Linked DNA regions of Homo sapiens: regions 2 and 3 are each linked to region 1. The links come from fine-mapping of genetic effects on gene expression. A gene starts in region 1. Each other region holds a variant in brackets. All regions are shown on one strand. Distances are between the middles of the regions.

What was found.
Region 2: its variant is fine-mapped to the expression of SHROOM3 in nasal epithelium (TOPMed, PIP above 0.99). The same link has a PIP of 0.9 or more in pancreas.
Region 3: its variant is fine-mapped to the expression of SHROOM3 in iPS cells (iPSCORE, PIP 0.90).

The regions. Positions count from the first base shown.
Region 1 is chr4:76,430,910-76,439,205 of GRCh38, reverse strand. It overlaps SHROOM3 (shroom family member 3), which reads right to left and starts at 3,977. Exons shown (of 11, transcript NM_020859.4): 1 at 2,986-3,977. The coding sequence starts at 3,153.
Region 2 is chr4:76,688,867-76,697,090 of GRCh38, reverse strand. The region is part of intron 2 of SHROOM3 (shroom family member 3); the gene reads right to left. Among named protein-coding and RNA genes, the nearest start is that of SHROOM3-AS1, 110 kb to the left of the region's middle. RefSeq lists a silencer at 7,415-7,594 and an enhancer at 7,508-8,030. The variant A/G (reference allele first, on the strand shown) is at 4,601.
Region 3 is chr4:76,700,103-76,708,398 of GRCh38, reverse strand. The region is part of intron 2 of SHROOM3 (shroom family member 3); the gene reads right to left. Among named protein-coding and RNA genes, the nearest start is that of SHROOM3-AS1, 98 kb to the left of the region's middle. The variant G/A (reference allele first, on the strand shown) is at 3,673.

The DNA of each region.
Region 1 (8,296 bases):
TTTGAAGATGGAGGAAGGGGACCATGAGCCAGGGAATGTGGGCAGCCTCTAGAAGCTAGACAGGGCAAGAAAACACATCTTCCCCTAGAGCCTCCAGCAAGGAACACAGCCCTGCTGACACACTGACTTTAGCTCAGTGAGATCTGTGTGAGGTGTGTCACCTACAGAACTGTAAGTTGTGTTGTTTTTAAGCCATAAGTTTGTAGTAATTTGTTACAGCAGCAATAGGAAACTAATACATGCCCCACATGGAGGTCTGCCTGGCATCCTCATTGGTTCTGTTTGGTCTTTTGCTTATTAATTCAGTAAAAGTTATTGAGTGCCTACTCTGTGCCAGGCACTGTGCTAGATCCTGAAAATGCAAAATGAGTAAGACACAGCCATGCCCTTTCATATACTCAACAAACATTTGTGTACCTAGGCTCTGATTTAGATGTGATAGAGATGAAAAAAAAAAAATAGTCCCTGCCCTAAAAAGGCTCACAGACTTCTGAGAAGGCAATCAACGAAATAAAATTTTATGATTCAATGTAATACATGCATAATATGGAAGTGTAGAAGGGAGACCACGGAACTCAACTTGGGTGACATCAGGAAAACCTCAGAGAGAAGAAGAAATGGAGCTTTAAAGAGTTTGCCAGACAGACAACATGGGGGAAGATGTTCAAGAGCTTCGGAACAGTACGACTCTTGGAATGCAACAAGTGCAAATGAGGAACATTTAAACAGAGTTTAAAATTTTTTACTTCATTTTAGTTACCTTTAATTGAAATAGAAATAGTCACATGTGACTGTGGGCCACCATATTGGACAGAGCACATTGGACCAGATTGGATCCTTGAAAGAAAGGAGATTGCCTTCTCTTTTCCCTCTTCCCTGCTTCTTACTGACTGGAAAGCAGATGTGGTGGCAAGTCACTTGGACCATGAAGATGAGATATCACTCCAGGATGGAAGTAAGAAAATAGAAGGAACTTGGGTCCCTGACATCATAGAGCCATCTTTTGGTTTGGCTTATGCTCAGACTGTTATGTCAGAGAAATAAATTCCTATATTATTGTTATTTTGGATCTTTTTACAGCAGCCAGACCTGTCTCCTACTACACATGTCTGCTAGAATAATGAAAAGCAATAATCATAATCTTTGCTCCTTCTGTGTACTAGACACTAACCTAAATGCATGGTTGCATTTAAACACAACCCATTAAAGTAGATAGTAGGATAGCCCCATTCTGCAGGTAAAATGGAGGCTTAGAGAAGCTGGCTCATTAGTGGGAGGATTAGACCTTTCTGTCAGCAAACTGTCAGATACTGTAGTGTATAGATACAGAATATTTTATCATTAAGGGACAGGCAAATTGTGTACAACTAGACTTTTTAAATGCCGAGACAATATTTATGTTCATTGCAGAATTATCTGTTATTCAGCAACCATGCCCTCTTTCTTCCTGCAAAAAGAACCTCAAATCATTCAAACAGTGGGCAATGATTCCTTGACTTCAGGAAGAGTAGGTCCTTATTGTAGAAACCTGTGAAAGAAATCCTAATCAGTCTGTATTAATCACTGGCATTTCTTACCAGTGATTGGCCTAAAGACAGGCACAGGGTACAGTTCTGGTTAATGAGATGAAAGCAAAGGTCTAATGAGAAACAAAAAGCCAAAAACCTGTCTGGAATGAAGATGCAATCAATGCTGGAGTTGTGGGATCCATCATGCAACCATGAAGACAAAGCCAACATCATAAGAATGGCAGAGTGGAGAGATAAGTGGGGTCCTTGATCACATTATTGAGCTGCTGCTCCCCTTGCCTGGAAAATCTACCTCCAAACTTCTTGTAATATGAGAAAAACAAACCCCAATTTACTGAGAGCCACTATAAACTCGGTTTTGAATTTTTTTCACAGGGGGAAGCCTTCCTAACTGACACACACATATGCACATCCTTTTGTTTTACTTAAGAAAGTTAAGGAAAAGTCATACAACTTATAATGGTGTCCCGTGCACTCGTGGCTTATCACTGTGAAACCCAGTTCTCCCTGGCTCATCCACAGTAAGAATTACTTCAGTAATTTGAAAAATAACCTTTTGGAATTATTTCTGGGGATATGAAAAGTAACCTGAACCAATAACAGAGCTCAAATGCAATCCATATTACCTTCTTCCCACCCTCAAATTAAAAATTTTTTCTCCCTTAATTACAAATGTTTCTTGATGAATGCACATGTGTGAAAAGCCATTATAATCTATTGTATCAGACTATTAAATACTCTAAAAATTTAAAAGCAATATTATAACAAGTAATGTTAATCTGTAGTTTAAGAGAAAAATAGAAATATTAACCCCAGTACATAAATATTTCATTGGTATGACTACCCACACCAAAAGATAAATGAAGAATTGAGGTATGCTGCAGGATGACTAAGGTTTAAAAAGGGATTCAAATATACAGATAAATAGGAGAGGCAGAAATGTTTTGATCTTGAGTTATGCTGAAAGCTGATTTAATTCTCCTTTCTGAGTGTGGGGAAAAAAAGCAACACATGGTATTTATGCAATCTATTATCCAGAATTATAAGCAAACTTAAAATATTTTTAGATGCTATTTTCAGTTGAAGAGAGAAAAAGCAGATATTTTTGAATGCACAAATATATACCATGCCACCATCTTAACCATGTTATTAATCTTTAATCTGATTTATAACTGAAAAGCTCATGTGGTAACTGATTGTATGCGATTTCATTCACAAAAAGAGAAGATTATCCATCAAACAGGCATATTTTTCTTCGGATTTCATAGAATAAATGAGCTAGACACATTTTTCTTTCAAATCCCAGGCTATCCAAAATATTTCTAGATAATCAGAAAGGCATGAAACAGCAAATTAAGTTATATTAAGGCAGTTCTCATTATTTTGCATTTTTGACAAATCTGACAAGTTGAAAAAAACAATTTGAATAAAGGCAATATTGGAAAAAGAAACATACCTTAGAGATGATTAATGGTTCTCCGTGCTCCAGGCCACCCTTTAGAGTAAAACCCCAGGGAGCTCCTCCCTCCAGGAATGCCTCCAGATAAATGTACCTTCCCTTGGTGGCCGTGTTAGAGTTTAATGTGGCACTAGGCTTGTGGAAGTCTTCAGTGGTCCTCATCATGCCAAACACATGATCCCTCAAGTTAAATTTAAAATGCCTGAAGCAAACTCAGGCAAGCAGTGCTTCTACAGCACAAGTTGTCCCATCCTTCAGGACACACAATGGCCAAAAGAGAGGTTTGGAGAAGCAAATTCTTCCATACGTAAAATGTTCTTCCAAGCTGAACTCCAAGATGCTGAACCAGAAGGAATTTTCACTTCAACATTTCTGAATGTAAATCCTCCTCCAGGAATTCTGGGTTCTCACTGAAGCCCCCAAGTGGTATACATCTCTACTCCGTTCGTCAAAACTTCCTTCAGTGGCGCTCTGAAGATTGCTTTTCTGAGCTTTTATTTCACACATACACACACTAAAACCATTTCTGCCTATTTTACAGAGAAAATTAAAAGCATCTTACAATATAGTAAGAAAATCACAAATACTCAAAGGAATACCTCATTTTTGATTGATTATCAACCCTTTCTTCCTCTCGGAGTGAAATTTACCATTACAATAGCCTCCTCCCTCCCCAGAAGTAGCTTAAAAAGAAAGAAAGCACTTACTATGCTTCGGCTCACTTCAGAATTTTCTAACTTGTCCCGAAGAGACAGAGAAGCTGTGCTAAAACTTTTTACTTCTTTTTTTCAACAATCAGTTCATAGTTTGTTTCTTAGGAGAGAAAAAAACTTTTGCAGGATGTAGAGAAAATGAAAAAGCACGGTAAATTAATCCTCAATGGAAAAAATATGAAGGAGGCAGCTCAGTTCTTTTCTTTGGTATTTTCAGTGATGATCAGCCACTGCTGCGGCCGCCACAGCCACTTGCCTCCTCTTGAGAGAAAGAGTAAGGAAGTTAGAGGAACATGGATTAAGGCAAAGTGAGGCATTGCAACCTTTCTGCACAGTAAGCACTGCCATGCAGAATTCAGCTCACCACAAAGACCTGACAATTCAAACAGTCTTACAGTTAATAACACGTAGGAAGTTAAAAATACTATACAGATGGCTAATTGCCAAGGGATAGAAAATAGTTCCTAGAATAGCCCCGCCTCGTACCAATTAAAGGAGAATTTCAGGGAGTGAGACATAGGCATTTGTGTTTTTAAAAACCCTCCAGGCAATTCTGCTATGCAGCCAAGTTTGAGAAGCAATGCCTAAGTGATTTGGGTAAACGTTTAAGTACATGTCAAGGTGGTGGCACAAGGGCTTTTTTTTTTTCGTTAGAAGAAAATACTACCAGTGTAATATATGAAATGGGACTTTCCAATCAAAGTTCTGCTTGTTTGACTCAATAAAAACAGGAGGTGGGTTTTTTTTTCTAGGTTTTCATTGTTATCTACTCCAAGATTGTTATCCACTCTTTAAATGAAAAGAAATCTACAATGCCTTGTGGGTAAGTACTAGGTACTCGGGAAAGAATGTTGTTCTGATTTCATGTTACCAGTGTCATTTTGTAATAATGTTATATACAAATTTAACATTCATGCTTTGTATTAAAAATTTGAACAGTAGAAGATAACCATATCTAACCCAGAAGCCTCAGCTATTTAGTTATTGGAACAGATTAGAATTACTTCCAGGTAATATATGTACTAAAACTTTTTTCTGTTTAAAAGTATGGGATAATGAGAATTAAGTTGAAAACTGAAGTTAAAAACTACTGTGGGGCTTGATAACAATTATTTTGGTGTTTGTACTTATAATTAATGAAAGGCTGATATGGAAAGGCAGGTATATGATATCAAACTACACGATATTTAATTTACAACACTGGACAGGTATTGTTTGATTTTCAATGGTAACTTCACTTGAAGGGCTCAAAGACAAAAAAAAAAAAAAAAAAGTAAAACCTTATGTAATGGTAGTATGTGAATGGAAACATAAGGAAACCTAAGGTGTACCAAATGAAAGTATGTGGTAAAAATTGGCTGATTCTTAAGGGTAATTTACGCAATTTCTATTGTGGTTTTCTTTTACAGCTTAATTTGTAAGTTAGAATAAATGGAGAAACATTAGCTTTTCTTTCATTTCAAAGAACATATGTATTTTAAATAAAAGTCCTAGGTAAATGAACAGCTTTCTTTCTGAAAAAATTAATTTATGAGGCTCTTATTATGTTACTCCTAATACATTTTGTAAAAACTGGGATTTTACAGAATCCACATTTAATATTAAAAGTAACATAGCTATACAAAATTTCAGTTAGGAGGCATAAGCTCAAGAGATCTATTGTACAGCATGATGACCATAGTTATAACAATGTATTGTATATTTGGAAATTGCTAAGATTAGATTTTAAGTGCTCTCACCACAAAAAAAATTAGTATGTGAGGTAATAGGTTAATTCCTTGATTTAGCCATTTTACAATGCATACTTATATCAAAACATCATGTGGTACACCATAAGTATATATAATTTTTAGTTGTCAATTTAAAAAATAATAAACAAAAAAAGTAATGAAGCTAAAGGCAAAGGAAATAAGGAAAAGATAATATGAACCCAGTGCTTGCAGACTGATGAAATCTCCATTTTAGATTATCACCAAAAATATTGAAGAAACAAACATAGAACCAAAATTGATATGTAATCTGAAAAAAAAATGTAAAACTTCATTTTGTGGACCTTCACTATAGCAGTTGATAGACCAGGTTTGGAAGAACTTTTTTCCTCCATCTTCTGTTGATCAGATTCAAAGAATGTTAAAGCTGCAAGAGACAATCCTCCCACACCCTTGATTTTAGAGGTAAGGACACAGAGGCCACCAGAAGGTTAAATGATCTGACCAGAGTAATCCTGCAAGCAACACAGGCAGGCATGAAATTTAAATCTTCAGACGTTTAGGAATGAAATCCTAGCTTAAGTCAGGTGTTCTGCATAGTTTACGGTGAAAAGACAACTTTCTTTTGGCATAGCACTGCTAATTCGTAAGAAGAACTTCTGTTAGGATATGTGATTTGGATGCAAACTCTTAATTACAGAATGCAATCAGACTCCTCCCCAAGAAGAGAAAGGCAACTCTATTGTCTCAAGGTGCTGACAGTGGAAAGAAAGGTTGGGATTCTAACTGAGAACAGCATAGGACTCAGGCTTTCTAATAGAGGACTTCTTTTATGCCCCATTCATCATCTTTCTAGGGAACCACTTCTTCCTCGATCCTGTGGTGCTGGTGGGCTGCCCCTGTCCCCGGCTCCAGGGTGGACGTAATGACCCAGGAATCAACCAACCCCTGGCTCAAATGATTGATATGTGGATGGGCATGAGACTTAAGTGTGACCAATGTTATAACTAGAAATTTTACTAGTGCTGTCAAAAAATGGCATTTTCTCCTATGGTTTGCTAGGTTGGTAGATAAAATTTTTGAGTTGCTGGAAGTCTTTTTTTATTTTTTATTTTTTTTTTAATTGAGACAGAGTCTAGCTTTGTCGCCCAGGCTGGAATGCAGGGTGTGATGGCGGCCTACTGTAGCCTCAATCTCCCAGGCTCAAGCAGTGCTCCCACCTCAGCCTCGCAAGTAGCTGAGACTACAGGTGCATGTCACCATGCCTGGCCAGTTTTAAAAATTGTTTTGTACAGACAGGGTCTCACTCTGTTGCCCAGGCTGATCTCAAACTCCTGGGCTCAAGTGATCCTTCCGCCTCAGCCTCCCAATGTGCTGAGATTACAAGTGTGAGCTGCCACGCCCCAGCTGGAAGTCATCTTTGATATCACACGCCTGAGAAGGAAACCAGCTCTGAGAAAAGCAGTCTATGATAAGGGGGAGACAGTTCTGGTGATACCATTGAGCCTTGTGCCCAATTGTACCTTACTGAAGCTGGCAATTCTCAAGCTTTTTGGTTTCAGGAACCCTTACATGCTTAAAAATTATTGAAGACTCCAGATAAATTTTATGTGTTTTGTATTGATCAATATTTACTATATTAGAAAATAGAAAAGAACATTTTAAAATACTTATGTATTAATTCATTTAAAAATAATAAATCTTTATATGTTAAAGTAACATATTAATATTTTTATGAAAAATAATTACATTGTCTCAAACAAAAAATATTACCAAGAAGAGTGGCACTGTTTCACATATTTGCAACTCTCTTTAATGGCCAGGTTAGTAGAAGATGGTTGGATTCTACCATCTGCTTCTGTATTCAATTTGTTCAATATCACATGGCATATAGCCACTGGAAGATTCCCCTATACATTTTTGAGAGAGCAAGTGGAAAAGGTACACAATGTCTTAGTATTATTACAAAAGCAGTTTTGACCCTGAAGACCCTTAACTTTCCAAGTTCCTATGGGATCATAAAACTGGTAATTGTAGGAGTGGGGTGGCTTTAGGCCACCATAAGCAGATGCAGCCAGGCCTAAAGCCACCCCACTCCTACAATTACCAGTTTTATGACCCCATAGGTACCTGTTTATTTTTTCCTTAAACCAGCGGGGGTTGAGTTTCTGCTTCTTGCAACTGAAAGAGTTCAGAGTAATACACAAGGAAACCCCTTCGTGGTTTTTCCTGGTTTGGGAGAAAGTTTAGAGAAGCTTAGCACAGTACCAAAAATGAAGCTTCACATTGTGTTTTTCTGTCTATTACTTCTCTCCTTCCTTCTGCCTCTAACTTAGAATTACTCCTGCTTTCTTGATCAGATTCTTCCCTTCATGACAAATAGATCCAATGTAGCTTACAACTTTATTTTCTGTCTCTATACGAAAAATTCCCACTGTGAGTTATTGAGCTCATATTGCTGTCATTGTGAATATGGCCCCAGAACAGAAAAATATATCAGTCATATTGACTCTACCACTTGTTTAGCATCCCTACACCAAACAGTCTGTTAAATGTCATCTTCCTAATCACTGTTTTGACTTTTTAGCAATCACACATCATTGTATTTGTTAACAGCACTGAAGGAAAAATTAAGTTGATCTTTTGAAAATTCCCATTTCTTGATTTTAATTTTTCTTAGTATGCCCTAATGTTTTTCTCTTTATTTTTTGCTAAAACTTTTAATGTGATTGTCAACTTATTGGATTTTTAAAAATGCTTCTAGATGGAATATTTAAGAGATTGAAAAGTCAGTAGGTTATCTCTGAAAATGAAATCAGAGCGACATCTACTGGCTATTCTGGCTCACTAATCGGTAAAGTAAATTAACTGTAGACAATAAATAGG
Region 2 (8,224 bases), 260 kb before region 1:
AAATTAATTAGCTGGGTGCGGTGGCATGTGCCTGTGGTCCTAGTTACTCAGGAAGCTGAGATGGGAGGATTGTTTGAGCCCAGGAGTTCGAGGTTGCAGTGAGATATGATTGCACCACTGCACCCCACTTGGGCAACAGAACAAGACCCTGTCTCTTATAAAAACAACAACAAAAACCTCTCGGCTAGTTTTGTTTTCATCTTGAACCTTGAATCCCTATGCTATCCCCCAGTTCCCAGAGCCTGCCTGGTCTTCCAAGCTGGATGTGAAAACATGCCTTTGATGCAAATTCTTTCCAGACTGGAGCCCACCCTTGTTAATGTTGACTAACTTAAGAACAGATGGTATTGGGAACAGAATCTGAGCAGAAAGCAGGTAGAGAAGTGAGTCATCATTTTTATTTGACCAAGCAGAGCAGCCCCTTCCCCCTCAATGGGCATTCACACATGGAAGGGTGACCTCAGGGAGGAGTTTGGCAGGTCAGGGACGCCAGGCCAGGCCAGCCTATGACAGGACATGTCCTGTGAGCAGTCCATCACCCACCATGTCCCCTCCCACTGCAACCCTGATATGTCAAGCCTGGGAAAGGTATAGAACCCACGACAAAGAGAAGGTACTGGACTGTGACCCCATTTCACAAATCCAGCTGCGGATCAATGGCCTCCGCCCCAGCCAGACCTGGCTCAGTAGGGGAGGCAGCCTCCTCTCACTATCACATTCCAGCTGCCAGTAGTGAGGAGGTAACCATGGGAACCGACACAAAGGGCTTAATGTTAGAGGGAAAGAGGCTGGGGGCGATGGTGAAGAGGCTGAGAGGGACTTCAAGTGACAGTCCTGCAATTCTCCTAACTTCAACCATGTGCGTCTATTGTGAGTCAGACTAAAAGACTGAAGTGGAGCTTTTGCACAGCAAAGCAGCCTGGCACAAGGCCTCGAGAGTGTCAGAGACAAGCAGACAGCTAAGATCCTTGTAGGTTCTTCTTCCAGATTTATTTTTTCCCCATCAGAGAGCAGAGTCCTAATAATTTCATTTCCCAGTCATTTTGCCCCAAAATAATACGGCTCATTTGGATGGACATAATTGGTACACAGTGGCACTCTTTCAAATACAGGGCTGCAAGCAACACTTTGCTTAGGGGCTTCTTTCTGCACCATCTGGTTTCAGTCCAGTGTCTCCAAAGGTCTCTGCATGCTGAGGGGCTTCTTCGATGGGTCTGGAAATAGACCAACGTGGCACCACTTGAGTGGCTGAGGAAATGGTCCTGAGATTCTGGCTGCCTAGTTAACTCCACACTGCAATGGAGAGGCTTTGATGTCAGGACCAATAATCCAGAGTATCTTCCACGACACTCAGGACTTTGGGGGAGAAACTAAGTGAAAAGGCTCATATAGGAACAGATACTAGGATCCATATTTATTTAATTACATTTTCCCCTGGGCATCTATACATTATTTTAATGAATTGGTCAAGGTGACTTCGTCTTCATTAAATCAGCAGCGTTTTCAACGTACCATTTGGAACTTATTTTTATTTAAGTTTTAGCTCAAGGTTCTCCAGAATCTGGGAGTTGAGAAAATGCCAATGGAAATAGGAAATATGAAATATCCAGGATCAATGGTAGACTTTTCTTCTTACTGTAACAGTGCTCTGGGGCACATTTCTTACCTTGCTATTTTTTTGGAGACCAAGAAAATATTGCATCTATGTCCATCCCTACATAGACCTCACAAAGCATAGGTCAAATTCTAATAGGCAGCCATGATTCTCCAATTTTTTGTTCACAAATAAGTCGACTGACTTCCTAATTGGAGTCATTGGGGGTAAGGAGCAACGGACAATGTCAGAGAGGACCACCTCACAGGTGGACTTGTGAGGGGCTGGGAAAAGAAAAGACATGTTCATTAGAGCCTTTCCTACAAGCATCCCACAAACCCCCAAAGGTGGTAGACCCATTAACCATTTAAGAACATATTCAAGGAGTCAACCATCCCCCACCACCAGTATTAATCTGCATGCAGCCATAAGCAGGGCACTAGTTAGTTCCACTTATTGGTATAAAACAATCATATCTAAAAGGGAAAGATAGTTGACATCTATTACAGACCTCATCCATTAATTGACAGGATGGTATTGGGTACTAACCCTGGCACCTCCATGCCCTCAGCAAGTTATTTAACCTATGATTTTGGTTTCCTCACCTTTAAAAGGGGATAGTAACAGTGCCTGCCTCATAGGAGTGTGAGGAAGATAAAATCAGCCAGCACAAAACGTATTAGACAGTGCTTGACTCCTAGTAAGTACTCAATAAATGTTAGGAATTAACACCTATCAGGTGCCAGCCTAGTTATATTTACATGTATTCTGTCACTTAATCCTTATAACAGCCTTAACCTAATAAATATTAATACCTCTCTTAAGGTATCATTATCACCATCTTGCAGATGAGGAAACAGCTGCTTAAAGGACTCTCCAAATTACTAGTGTAGCAGAGCTCAGATTCAAACGTAGGTCATTCTACTTGCACAGTCTCTGACCTTTCCACTGTACTCAATTGCCTTTATATAAGACCATTTTGTTTTTGCTATTTTTAGTAAGGAATAACAAGTGAAGCCTTAATGAGAAATGCCAATGTTTAAGAAAATAACATCAATTAAAAGAACTAGGATTTTAAACCTCCACTGTAAGCAGGAGCTTTTAAAACAAACAACAAAACACAAAAAAAAACAAACAAAAAGACTAGCCTGAGACAGACCTCTCTGCTCTGAGAAAAATTCCAAAAGAAATGTGTACACATTCACACTTGTGGCTGGAGTGTCTATGAACCCTTGAGGGTACAATGTCTTATTATTCATCATTGAATTCCCAGAGGCTAATGCGTTCTCAGTAAATGTTTGACAAATGTTTACTGAATGAATTAAACCAACCCAACAACAAAATGCCTCACTTGGAGTTGGCAAAATATATAACATCTTTCCCAAATGCTTTGTTGAACTTAAATTAAATCACTGAAGCTTAATAGATTAAATAAACTATTATAAATTTACCACTCTGTCCAAAGCATTTTACTGAAAAGCATGACGTTAATTTTGATAGAGAGATCGAGTTTTGTTTTTTTTTTCTACCTACATCTTTGGGAAGAGAATATAGTATGTTAACCTTTCATTTGGATTCCCAGAAGATGTTGTGAGCCTCATCTGGGAGCTCAGCTTCGACAATCATCATTAAATCAGTCCTCAGATCAGTCCTCAGGAAAAAAAAAAAAAAAAAAAGGAGTTTGCCTAGTGCGTAGTTCCTCTCTTTGGAGTTTACTTCTGCTGGCAAAACCAAACCCCAGTAGTATTTTGATCACGTACACAAGAACTTCACATTTTAAATCCCCACAACCTTAAAAAATGACTCATCAAGGGCCAGGTGCAGTGGCTCACACCTGTAATCCCAGCACTTTGGGAGGCTGGGGCAGGCAGATCACGAGGTCAAGAGATTGAGACCATCCTGGCCAACATGGTGAAACCCAGTCTCTACTAAAAATACAAAAATAATTAGCTGGGTATAGTGGCATGTGCCTGTAGTCCCAGCTACTTGGGAGGCTGAGGCAGGAGAATCGCTTGAACCCGGGAGGTGGAGGCTGCAGTGAGCCAAGATTGTGCCACTGCACTCCAGCCTGGGCAACACAGCAAGACTCTGTCTTGTTGCTTTAAAAAAAAAAAAAAAAAAAAAAACAAACTTATCAAAATGAAGGTATGCATAGTAATAATGATAAGGATACCAGTTAATATAAGATCCTTGATAATCTTAAATGATATGGCTTTCACAAAAGTGTAAATACTTTTTCATCAACTCCAAAATCACATATTATATTTATCACAGTGCCTGGAAATAGTAGTTGACATTTACTGAGTTCTTACTAAGCTAAGTACCTTCAGTCATTAACTCAATCTTTGCAACAACCCTATGAAGATGTTCTATTATTGTCCAATGTCTTGCAGCTCAGAGGTATTTATTTAATATCTTGTCCAGGGTAATATATGCCTAGAGGCAGATGTGGGATGTATACTCTTGTGTAACTCTAGAACCTAAGTTTTTCTTCTAATTCAGGTAATGCTTTGCATACAATAAAATGCACAGGTCTTAGGTGTTCAGTTCGATGGGTGTGGATAATTGTGTATACCTATGAAACCATCACGAAAAACAAAACATAAAACATTTCCATCATTCCAGAAAATCCCTTCTTATCTCTTTCTAGTCAGTCCCTACCCACTGGCAACCACTGACTTCTGTCATAGATTAGTTTTGCCTATTCTAGCACTTCATGAATAGAATTGCTTATTATTATTTTGTATCTGGCTGCTTTCAGTTAACGTGCTCTTGAGACTCATCCAGGTTTTTGTATCAAGAGTTCATTCCCATTGATCGCTGAGTCGTATTCATTGTATGGATGTGCCACTGTTTCTTTACCCATTTTCCTGTTGATGGATGTAGGGTTGTTTCCAGGTATTGGTCATTATAAATAAGGTTGCTATGAACATTCTGTACAAGTCATTGGTGGACATTTGTTTTCACCTATCTTGGGTAAATACCTAGGCGTGGAAATGTTGGGTC[A/G]TAGGTTGGTGTATGTTTAACTTTACAACAAACTTAATTTCTTAACCCCTGTACTCTACACCTTCAGAATGGCACTAGCTTATTAACATGTTTTATTTTGCCTCTTATAAGACGAGTTCCTGAGGGCAGGGAACCCATCGCCAGTTCCTGGGATGCCTCCCACACAGTAAATGATTGCTGAATAAATGAATGACCATTGTTCATGCCCCTATTCCTTCTTTGGGTGTTACAACAGCATAAGAAAACTAGTTTCTGACATGCATGAAGAAATCCCACAAGCTGAAGGCTGTGAAATGGAGGCATTGCTCATTCAGGCAAGGTGAAGACTGCCCAGCCACCAGGCTCTACCTCCCAATCTTCTTTCTGACATGACCTTCCCTAGAAAGTGAACCCCTCTCAGTGATCCTGCAGGAGGAAACAGCTCCTGTTCAAGTGATACTACAGAAGGGGAGGAAGGTGTCAAGGCAATTGAGGTCACACAGTGGTTAGAATTACAGGATACTTCTGTCAAACAGAAAGTCAGAAGAAGCGGCAACCCATGAAATCCTGACCTTCTGGAAGTCACCAGCAAAACCTCAGCACTGCTGGACTCCAGGGAAACATCCTCGAACAGAACTTACAAGAATAATTGATTTTGGTCAAAGGTCTGTATGGGTTCTGCATGAAAAGGGAAAGCAAGAATAAACATTGAAGAGACAGTAGAATGTTGATGTTTTAAAAATGTAACCAGATTTAACACATAAGACAGGATTCTAAAAATAACACTAGGTTAAAAGTGGAGAAAACTCAGGCACACTCTTCACACACACCCTGCCCACCTTTCAGGCAAAACTTTTAATTCCCATGAATCAGTTCATTTACTTTAAAATCACAGAATTTATACTGTAATTCACCTATACCTTCCCAGAAAGCAGTTAAATCATTGTTGATTTTCTATCCATAATAGAAAAGGATTGGTAACTCCTAAGAATAATTTAACGTATCTGTTACCAAAAGAAGAACTTTGTTTCACATAAATCAAAACAGGGCTCCACCTCCTACTGGGCTCAGGTACTTTTGGCAACCTTAATTTGCTTTGGTCCCAGGTCACAGAGGACCTGGTCCCAGGTCAAAATTGAGGAATTCTAAACAAATTTTAGAATTCCTCAATTTTGAGGTTCAGAGTAGTGACCTAGTCTTCCTTTATCCAGACAGTACTGCACTGAAGCCATCCTAGGCAGATGGATGTTTATCCTATTCTTAAAATCTCCAGGGAAGTGAATTCTCTACAACATCCCTTGGTAACCTTCTCCAGGGTTTTATCAAATGTATGGTGAGGAAGTTCTGATGCAGAAGCCAATAAACATATTAACCATATGAGCCAAGCCACAAGCACTGGAAAGGGGTATGTGTTTGGGCACCTCGCCTTAATGGTAGAGAGATGTATTTACAAAATAGGCTGTACAAACAGAAACCATTTGCTGGGAGCAGATGTGGGAAGTTGATTCAAGAGAAATTGCCACAATAAATTCTGTTCCAACTCATGGGCAATGTGAATAAGTTATTGTTGGTTATAACATTTTTTTAAGTAAGTTTATTTCCTTGTCAATTCCTAGCTTTAGTTCCTAAACCAGGATTGTTAGCAATGGAGAAAAAAAAAAGTCCATAGCTGAAAAGTTTTCAAATGACTAGGATTCTGTGAAAAACTAGGTCTTAGCAAACAAAACATAGATGTTGTTATAAGAGTTTATTTCTTTCTCTGTATATTACACCTTTTCTGCAACGATTGTGTAATATTTTTATAATCAGAAAAAAAAAGGTAACCATCAAAATAAATTTAAAATGTAAACCAACTTCTGGTGAAATTTTTTGGGGGAAAGATCTAGCCATATATCCGACCAGGGTGCTTTTAACTGGAAACGGACATTTAACTAGGCTTTAAAACAACTAATTAAAAACAGAAAATGCACAGAACTCTCTCTGGCAGCCTCTGTGCTAGGACTTCCTGTTGCACCCCCCGATATCACAGCAATCTCTCCATGGAGATGACCCGCATGCAGGGCACCCATTTGCTCCCAGTGCAGAAGCTCCCGTGCACACAGTGCGCCACAACAACACTACTATTTAAAGGGAGAGGGGAAAAAGGTAATGCCAAAATACATCCTAGAGGAAGAGAAATACATCCCACCCCCAGAGAGTGCTCCAGGTGTTGAAATTTTGTAACCACTCCCCTCCCCCACCAGCAAAAGTTTTATTCCTCTGGCAATTCGGAGTAAAGCGAGCGTCAGGTAGAATTTCATTTTCATGATTTAAGTGTTGCTGCAGCACAAGGAACACACTATTTAAGTAACTGTCTTAAGATCTGGAGCAAGTGGGGGTTGGGGGTAGGCGTGCCCCTCAACGCACTTCAGGAGCCTTTCCTACAGAAACAAATCCAGTAAAATTAAGAAAGGCAAGGAGTTCTCAACTCAGCAGGGGCCCTGGTGGGAAGCAATTTATCAAAATTAAAATATTTCACAGATCATTTCTTCCGAAAAGTTTTCATGCTGTCAATAATCAACAATTATTTTCCTCTTGGAGTGGCAGCTACTGCCTCTCTGATAAAAAGCCAAGGCCTAGGAGTGTCAGGAGACCCTCGGAGCACGCCACCTGCCCCCATCAGCCGGGGTGCTGGCCGTGAAAGCCCCTGGGAGCCATCCTCCAGACAGGGCTTTCCAGAGTCGCCGCAGAGCCCGAAATAGACGCGCTCCAGAAAGCAGCCGGCCGGCCCCCGCCTCCCTCTCCGTGCCCAGCCGCCCTCCTCACTCACCATCGCCGCTCGCCTCGCGGCCGCCGCCCCCGGGCTGCTCGGGGCTCCAGGCCGACGCCAAGTTCAAACTTCGCCGCCGCTCCGAGGAGGCGGCGCGCGGCATCGCCGGCGGGGCCCAACGCGCTCAACAATGGGCGGCCCAGCAGCGCCCTGCGCCACCGCGCCACCGCGCCGCGGCTACAGCTGCACGGTGGGCCGGGGCAGCGCGGCTGGAGGACGCTGATCCCGCGCGGCGCGCCGAGGGTGCGGGGCGCTCGCCCACCTCTCGTCCCGCCCGGGCCCGCTCAGTCCACCCCGCGCCCGCCGCACCCGAGGGGCCGCGCTGGCTCGGCGCTGGCTCGGCGCTCGCTCGCCACCAGGTAATCCCACAGGAAGCCTCCCGGATTGGCCCGGGAGCTCAGGACCGGATTTGCATTTCAATGGCAAAGAAGGCTCCCTAAGGTTTGAAAACGGATTCTGGGGTGGAAGCGTCGCGCTCCACTCGCCCCTCCGCGGTCCTTGGGTCCTTACGGTATTAAGGGGACCGGACCGAAGCACACACCCTCAGTCCCTCTGCCCATTCAATCAGAAAGGTGCCTTAATTAACCTCCCCCCGTTGTAAAATGCAGAGGAATCCAAAAGCAAAATATCAACTTTAAGAAGCCCGCGCTCGCTTTTCAGAGGCTATACAGTTAGTAATTGATCAAATGAAGCATGAATGAAGCAAGGTAAAAAGTTCACAGCTAAAAAAAAAAAAAAAAAGCTCGCATTACAAGGAAAATAACCATCCTTTTTCTCAGCATGCCCTCTTCTCAGTGTAAGTCACAGCAGAGATGCAGGTGGTGGTGAATGCCGCT
Region 3 (8,296 bases), 270 kb before region 1:
TTTTTTTTTTTTTTGCACAATGTCTTGGGCACCAGAGACTGAGCTCTTTTCTCTTTCCTTTCCACTTCTCCTTCCTGGGAGATGCCTAGAGACAGAGGTCTAGGAGTGGTGACTGTCACAGTGAAGGGCTGGCAGGAAGAGCAGGCAGACCAGAAAGAGATGGAAGCATGAGGAACATAAAATCATTCCATCGATTTAAGCATTTTCAATGTATGATTCCTTTCTACCCTAGAAAAGCAGAGACCAGCACCCCAGCACTGCCCCCAAAACCATGTTGTCCTACTACGTGTCACCTCTACAGGACCAGCTGAAATTAGCAACTGGGTGTGAGAATCCTGAAACCCATTTTGATTCTTGTTAATTGCAACCTCCAGGCTAACCTTTGCCCCTCCTAATCTTCACCCTCCTGCCCTGGATGGGTTGGCTCTGGATACCAGAAAGAGCCTGGGCACCTGGGTGAGCTGTCTGGATGCACCACACAAACTAGAAATCAGGCTGGAGAGAGTGCTAGAATCACCAGCACACCAAGCACACCTTTCCTCCCTTCAACTCTTTCTGGAATAATCTGGGCAACAAACACACATTTTAAAAATTCATTATATTAAAAAAAAAGAAAAAAAACCCATAGTGAACCGAGGTGGAAAATAGTCCTGGCATGAGTGTTGGGAAGCCTGTCATCCCAGAAACCAGGGCCCTGGAATTGTTTCTTTGCCCTTCCTTCCTTCTGCCTTACCTGTACATTGAATACCTTACCTGTACATTGAACTCATGCTGTCTCTAGAATGCACATTTTCTTACCCACCTCAAGTTGCTACTTAGCCTCAAAACAGACTGCCATAGACAAAGTCTGCAATGTGCTTTGATCTTATCGGGGAATGGTGCCCCACTGGTGCGCCAATGGTTATACACGACTCAGGCAAATTTGCCAAGTCTTTCTTAAAAAAAAAAGTGTGCTTTCCCATGTGCCAGATATTATTCCCACAACTTTTTTATGAAGGAGAGAATGAATGAGGGTTTAAGTCCCATTTTACAGACTGACAACCTGAGATACAGAGAAGTTATGTAAATTTGCTCAAACCACACATGGAATCATATTCCCTTCGGACTGTCAACCACTCACTCTCCTTCCTTTCAGTTTGGCAGGTTTCAAAAATGTTCAATTTATGCCACAGATTTTGTAGGCGTTACAATTACTAACCCAGATTTGGTAGGGAATGGTGATGGTAGAGCCATTAACTAAACATATTACCAAATAAGCCCATTTTTACTTAAAAGATACTAAAAGGTACAATGTCTCACTTAAAGATAACCAACGATACATTGTAGAAGCCTGGAAATCAATGAATCCAGTTCAAGTGAAACATACTGGGATAAACTATACACTCTCCAGGCCTATTGGGCTACTTCTAGATCCCTAAAGGATCCTCTCCGGGCTTATCCACACTCATCCTTCAGGTTTCAATTTCGACATCATTTCCTCTGCTGGCTACCCAGAGGAACTGTGGAAGTCGGGGTGAGGTGGCCCCTTGTGTGCTAGCAGTGCAGCACACTGGCTATAGATGTACACCTCAAAGTGCAATTCACACTGGCTGCTAGTTGCCTGCTTGCTGGTCCCTCTCTTCCACAGGTCAACAAAGATAAACCAGCTCAGCTTAGTGCCTGGAACAGAGAGTTGCTCAATAAATATTTGTTGAATGAATAAAGTACAGATGACCCTTGAACAACAGAAGCTTGAACTACGTGGGTCCTCTTATACGCAGATTTTTTTCAAACAACTGTATCCACCTCTCCTGTCTTCCCTTCCACCTCTTCGTCCATCTCTGCCACCCAAGACAGCAAGACCAACCCATCCTCTTACTCCTCCTCAGCCTAGTCAACATGAAGACAATGAGAATGAAGACCTTTGTGATGATCCACTTTTGATTAATGAATAGTAAACGTATTTTCTCTTCCTTATGATTTTCTTAGCATAATAACATTCTTTTCGGCCAGGCACAGTGGCTCACGCCTGTAATCCCAGCACTTTCGGAGGCCGAGGTGGGTGGATCATGAGGTCAAGCGATCGAGACCAGCCTGGTCAACATGGTGAAACCCCATCTCTACTAAAAATACAAAAATTAGCTGGGCGTGGTGGTACATGCCTGTAATCCCAGCCACTCGGGAGGCTAAGGTAGGAGAATCACTTGAACCCGGGAGGTAGAGGTTGCAGTGAGCTGAGCTCTGCACTCCAGCCTGGCAACAGACGGAGACTCCGTCTCAAAAACAAACAAAAAACAAAACAAAACAAAACAAAAACCATTCTTTTCTCTAGCATACTTTGTTGAAAGAATACAGTACGTAATGCATATGACATACAAAATATGTTAATCAACTGTAAGGCTTCCAGTCAACAGTAGGCTATTGGTAGTTAGGTTTTAGGGTAGTCAAGAGTTGTAAATGGATTTTTGACTCTAGGGGGTTAGCATCCCCAATCCCCCTGTGTTGTTCAAGGGTCGACTGTACTGCTAAATGTTCAACAGATCTGCAGCCTTTCTTCCCTCCTATATCCTTTTAACTCACAAGTTAACTTGTTGGCAAAACTAACAAGACATTTCTTGGAGCTGTTTTATGTTTATGTTTCTTGCTGTTCTCCAGTATCTATATCTCAATATTACCACTATGAGTGAAGAGCTAGGAATCAAAGCTGACCTGAGAAAGTTTAGCAGAGGCTAAAAAAATATACTGTAGTATGATCTTTCTTCTTCCAGATAGTTAAACAAGAAAGCCAGGCCAGCCACCCACATATTTCTTCTACTTCCCATGATGAGGACATTCATATTTGCTCTGCCTGCCACCCAATATTCATAACTCCAGAATATATACTGACTGCTTTCTTATTTGCTTTTTGTTTTGTTTCGTTTTTGAGACAGGGTCTTGCTCTGTCACCCAGGCTGGAGTGCAGTGGCACAATCTTGGCTCACTGCAGCCTCGACCTCCCAGGCTCAAGTGATCCTCCCACCTCAGCCTCCCAAGTATCTGGGATCACAGGCATGCACCACCATGTCAGGCTGATTTTTAATGTTTTGTTGTTGTTGTTGTTGTTGTTGTTGTTTGTAGAGACGGAGTCTCACTACATTGCCTGAGCTGGTCTTAAACTCCTGGGCTCAAGTGATCCACCCACCTTGGCCTCCCAAAGTGTTGGGATTACAGGCATGAGTTACCATGCCCAACCTATTTGGTATTTTAATAGTACCCATTAACTGCTTTCTGAACTGAGTTTCAGCCAATACAAAAGAAAGGGTTCCAGATCTTTCAGTTCCTTAGGGCTCTCTTGAACACTGTACAAATTAGGGAAGGCTGGGGAAACTGGAGTAAAAGACACGGAACTGAGCCATTAGGCATGGTCTCTCCAGGTCCCTTTGCTTCCTGGTTTCTATTGAGTTTGCATTTTTCTATTTTATCCTTAAAGGGGAGGGTGAGATGGAGGAATCGTGTCTCCTTGGCATGGTCTGTTACAACCTTAGGGAAGTGCTTGGTTTTGTCTGTTAGAATCAGCCATTTCCTCCTTTTTTGTTATGTTTCATCCAGGAGGGAATGCTTCCTCACTGGCCTCCCCCTTCCACTTCTGTCCCCTCCAATCCAGTGTCTACCCAGCAGCCTTTCAAAAAATGTAAATGGATGATGTCATTCCCT[G/A]ATGAAATCCTGTAGCTTCCCTATGCATTTTGGATAAAATCCAGGTTCCCCTACTTGGCCTGCAAGGTCTCTGGTGACGTGGCTCCTGCCCCTCCTTCAACCTTTCCCCTTACTGCATTCTGACCTCACTGGCCTTCCTTAGGTTCCCCAAACTTGCCAAGCTCTTTGCTTTTTGCACATGCTGTTCTCTAAGCCTGGAATATTCTTCCCAATTCATTTCTTGGCTGACCACTCCTTAGTTTCTGCTCCCAGCTGGAACATCACCTCCTCGGAGACTGCCTTATCTAATGCAAATACTCTTTCCTGGCACCTGATCTTTCCCTTTACTGCACTTATAACCACATGAAATTGTTCACTTGTGCATTGTCTGCTTCGTTGTTAAGACATAAGCTCAGCCAGGTCAGGGTCCACCTCTGGCTTTTCTTCAGCCTTGTTTTTTGAAACTTCTACACACCCAAGGCCTAGCACAGTGAGTGTCTCCTGGTAGGCACACAATGCATATTTGCTGAATGAATCATAGGAACCTGTAAAGGAAATAATTGTAATGCATCCAAAACAAAGTTCTATGTCCTTAAATCCATAAGGGCATTAAACTGTTCATAATATCTATTTTGGGAAATGTGGGATCTTCTTTTCTTCTAGTTACTTTCTAGATCAGGCTCTGAGTTGATTTCTTCTTGAAAATAGAATCTAGCCCTAACTTTTGATCCATCTCATTAGCGGCAGGCTTTCTTGGGACAGACAAGAAAAGTTGGGAGTTGGGAGACTGTGGCAGAGCCCCTTCGACAAACAGCTGGTATGGCTCAGTGCAATTTTGTTGCCTTATGTTTGGAGGCAATCAGAATGCTTTTTGTGATTAAGTAGACAGGATGCATTTATACAGGGCTAAGTTTGTCCTCAGAATCCTTTGGAGAAATTCCTTTTGATTTATGTTGGGTGTGTACACTCATTCATGTGGCAATTTGTCTTATTTAAAGCCACGTTCTTGGTTTTCAAGTTTTCCTTCTACTCTGTGTCCTTCATCCATGAAGTTAGCCTTACTATTGCATCTCTATCCTGTCATCCCCCTTCTCCTGGGTTTGCAGGTCTCTAATGCCATAGTTGTAGGTTTCTCAGCACTTTTTCTCTTGAGTCTCCAGGAGGCTGAAAAGGCCTTAGATTAGAAGCTTTTTCAGTGTCTGAAGAAGATTTTAAGAAGTGATGCCCTCAGGCACAGATTTCTGTTCTTAGCCAAACATAGGTGCTCTTCATTTTCTGATAACTGACCATTGATCAGCCGTTTCACAGACATCTCAATGAATTACCCTTTCTTTAAAAGGCCCCCTTGTTCCTGTTACTGACCTTTTGTAACTTACACATTTAAGTCTTAACCTTCTGGGTCCTGTCCTCTCATTACTCATCTTTTTTCCTTTTTAAGTCATTATTTACCATCTAGGAAGCTCCCTCTGCATGCCCTCAGGCCTGTATCCTATCTAGTGTTTTAGTCATAGGCATGCCATTCATTTGTACTTAAAGCCTCCTCCTGTCTTTCTGCTTACCTACCCTGGTCTACAGCTTGTTTTATTACAGGAGGGCCACACATAACCCTTCAGCTCTGCAGAGATGCACTTTGTATGTCTCAAACCTCTGTCCATTTGCACCTCCTGCTCTGGCTGCTGCTTTTTTTCACTTGATTTCCCCCTGAAACTTGCCAAACAAATCCAGGTGTACAATATACCCCAGTAACATTCAGCATATTTCTGACTCTTTCTGAAACCGTAAGCTTAATTATCTCCAGATCTTAGCCAATGACCTCTATGTCAACCTTGCAGAAAGATGAGGAAAGGGTGGATAGGAGAAAAAGCCAAATGACCTGCCAAATCTTTTAACCTGCCTAATAAATATTAATCTGCTTCAGTTTACTGCTGACATCAGTCCCTCTACCCACTGAGCCCTTTGACACAGCTAGTAGCCCAGGACAAGTGCATAAGAAAACCAAGGGCTCTCACAAGGGCTTTATAGTGAACAGATGATATCTTCATGGAAGCGGTGTGCCCCTAGCTACAAGCACTCAGAGCCTAGATCTTAAGACAACTCCAACAAGCAGCAGGCTGTGTAATGTATATGGACGATGTGGATTCCGGAGCCAGCTGCCTGGGGTCCTGTTCTGGCTCTGTCACCTAGGAAGGTGTTTGAGCAGGTCACTTAACCTCTTATGCCTGTTTTTTCCCCTATAAAATAAGAATACTAATAGCACCTTCATCAAAGGGTAGATGTGAGGCTTGAATGAATTAATATGTATAAAGCAATCAGAACAGTGCCTGGCAATAATTATTAAATTTTTACCCGTAGAACTGAAACTTACATTTACTGGGCACATGGTATGTACCAGATTATTTGTGCTTTAAAAACAGTAATTCAGTTAATCTTCTTATCATTTGAGGCAATAATCATCCTTATTGTAAAGAAGAAAAGAAAAATTAAATTAAAAAGTAGAAAGAGCTATGGCTAAAGGCCTCACCCTCTCCACTACCTACCCCATTAGATTCCTTTTAGGATTACTGGGCTTTGTATACTTTGGTAGGTATCAACCACATATCAAACCATGTATGCCTTTAATTTTTCCACATCACTCTTTTGTTATTCATATGAGATAAAACATATGCATAAAAACAAAACACCAGCAAGTATTCCAAAATGTTACTACTGGGTGACAGGATTATGGGTACTATTTTTCTTCTCTCTTTTCTATGTCTTGCAAATTGTTTACAATTAATGTTTATTATTTTAATTATCAGATAATAGTAAAATTAGCCTTATTTTTTCTTAATAGAATGAGTCTAAGGGTCTAAATTTTCTACATTTTTAAAGGAACATCTTCTCTAGGAAATGGAAGTGCCTATCCTGAGAGCATATGTGGGCAGCAGAAAGACTCCACACTAGTTGGTGAAGGGGATTACTTTGAGAGCTCCAATAACTGCTGAAAATAGCCAGTGGAGGAAGAAGCAGGGTTTCTGTGAAACTAGTATCAGTAGAGAGAGACAAATACCTCCTGAAAAAATTCAGTCTAGGCCTTTCTTTCCCTATCCTCTATCATTAGCCTACAGTAACAGACTAGTGTTCCCAGAGAACAATACAAATCTCTACAGCGAACCATTATTCATTACTTTAATACCAGATTATAGCTTATAAAGCACTTCCCAAACATTATTTCATTTGGCCCTCAATAATCCTAAAAGGCAAGTAAAGCAAGTATTATTTATCCCCATTTAACAGATGCAGAGACAGCCTCATAGAGGGACAGTTATTCGCTCAAGGTCAGGACTTCTAAGCCACACGACTGGCACAGCAGGGTCTCATACTCTAATTTTTAAGCTCTCTTGTTCCATACTGCCTTTGGATTCTGTGATCCTAAAAGTCCATTGATACAGTAGCAAACATTTAATACCAAAAGCCTCTTTAAAGGGGAAGCTTCAGAAGAAGAAAGTAGACTGACTGAAATTCAGATGAGACCCCTCTCTCAAGTCCAACTGTCCCTAGATCTAGAGAAATGATGAAGTCCCTACCCCTGACACCCAGACAGCATTCCTGCCCCTACAAGAACTTTCTAGCGCCGGTCACACTGCTGAAATGATGCAGGATATATTAAGATAGATATTTCAAGGCCAGGTGCAGTGGCTCACGCCTCTAATCCCAGCACTTTGGGAGGCCAAAGCAGGCAGATCACTTGAGGTCAGGAGTTTGAGACCAACCTGGTCAACATGGTGAAACACTATCTCTATTAAAAATACAAAAACTAGCTGGTTGTGGTGGCTCACACCTGTAATCCCAGCTACTCAGGAGGCTGAGGCATGAGAACCACTTGAACCCAGGAGGTGGAGGAAGGTTGCAATGAGCTGAGATCATGCCACTGCACTCCAGCCTGGGTGACAGAGTGAGACTCTGTCTCAAAAATAAATAAATAAATAAAAGAAAGAAAGAAAGAAAAAAAAAAGATATTTCATGCTGAAACCCAGAGCCTAGTCACATCTATACCTAGCCCAATCATCCATTCATTCAATCAACTATTGCTAAGGGCTAACCACAGGCCACACATTGGATTAGGCACTGGACTCGTGGCAAAACAGACACGATCCTTCCCTTTGTGGAATTATAAATTAATGGGAAGAAAGCCAAAATTAACTGAATAAATATATACATACACGCCATAAGTCCTGGGAAAAGAGACCATGAGAGCAGCCCACACTCAGCATGCCTCCCTCTCCTTGTCATTCACTTTTACACAGTCGGTGTAGACACTTGCTTCCCCCAGTCGCATGCCCCAGGGAGGGCAGGTATCCAAGCATCAGTCCTCAAAGTTGCCATTACCTTATGGAGTGCTCTGAGCCAGGCTGGGGGCCAAACTGTTTCTGCACAGCTTCTTACCATCCTTACAGCCAACCTTGAAGGCAGGTGACTTTCTGCTATTAGTCCCTACTTTATTCATGAGGAAACAGACTCAAAGAAGTGCAGGAAGTTTGTCCAAATGCTGGTGAAAAAAGAATTTGACTCCAGATCTGGCTGATGACAAAGTCTATGCTCTTAACTATGATGTCATAGTCTTAATCTTATTTGAGATTCTCCTTTCTTCCTTGGCCCCATATGG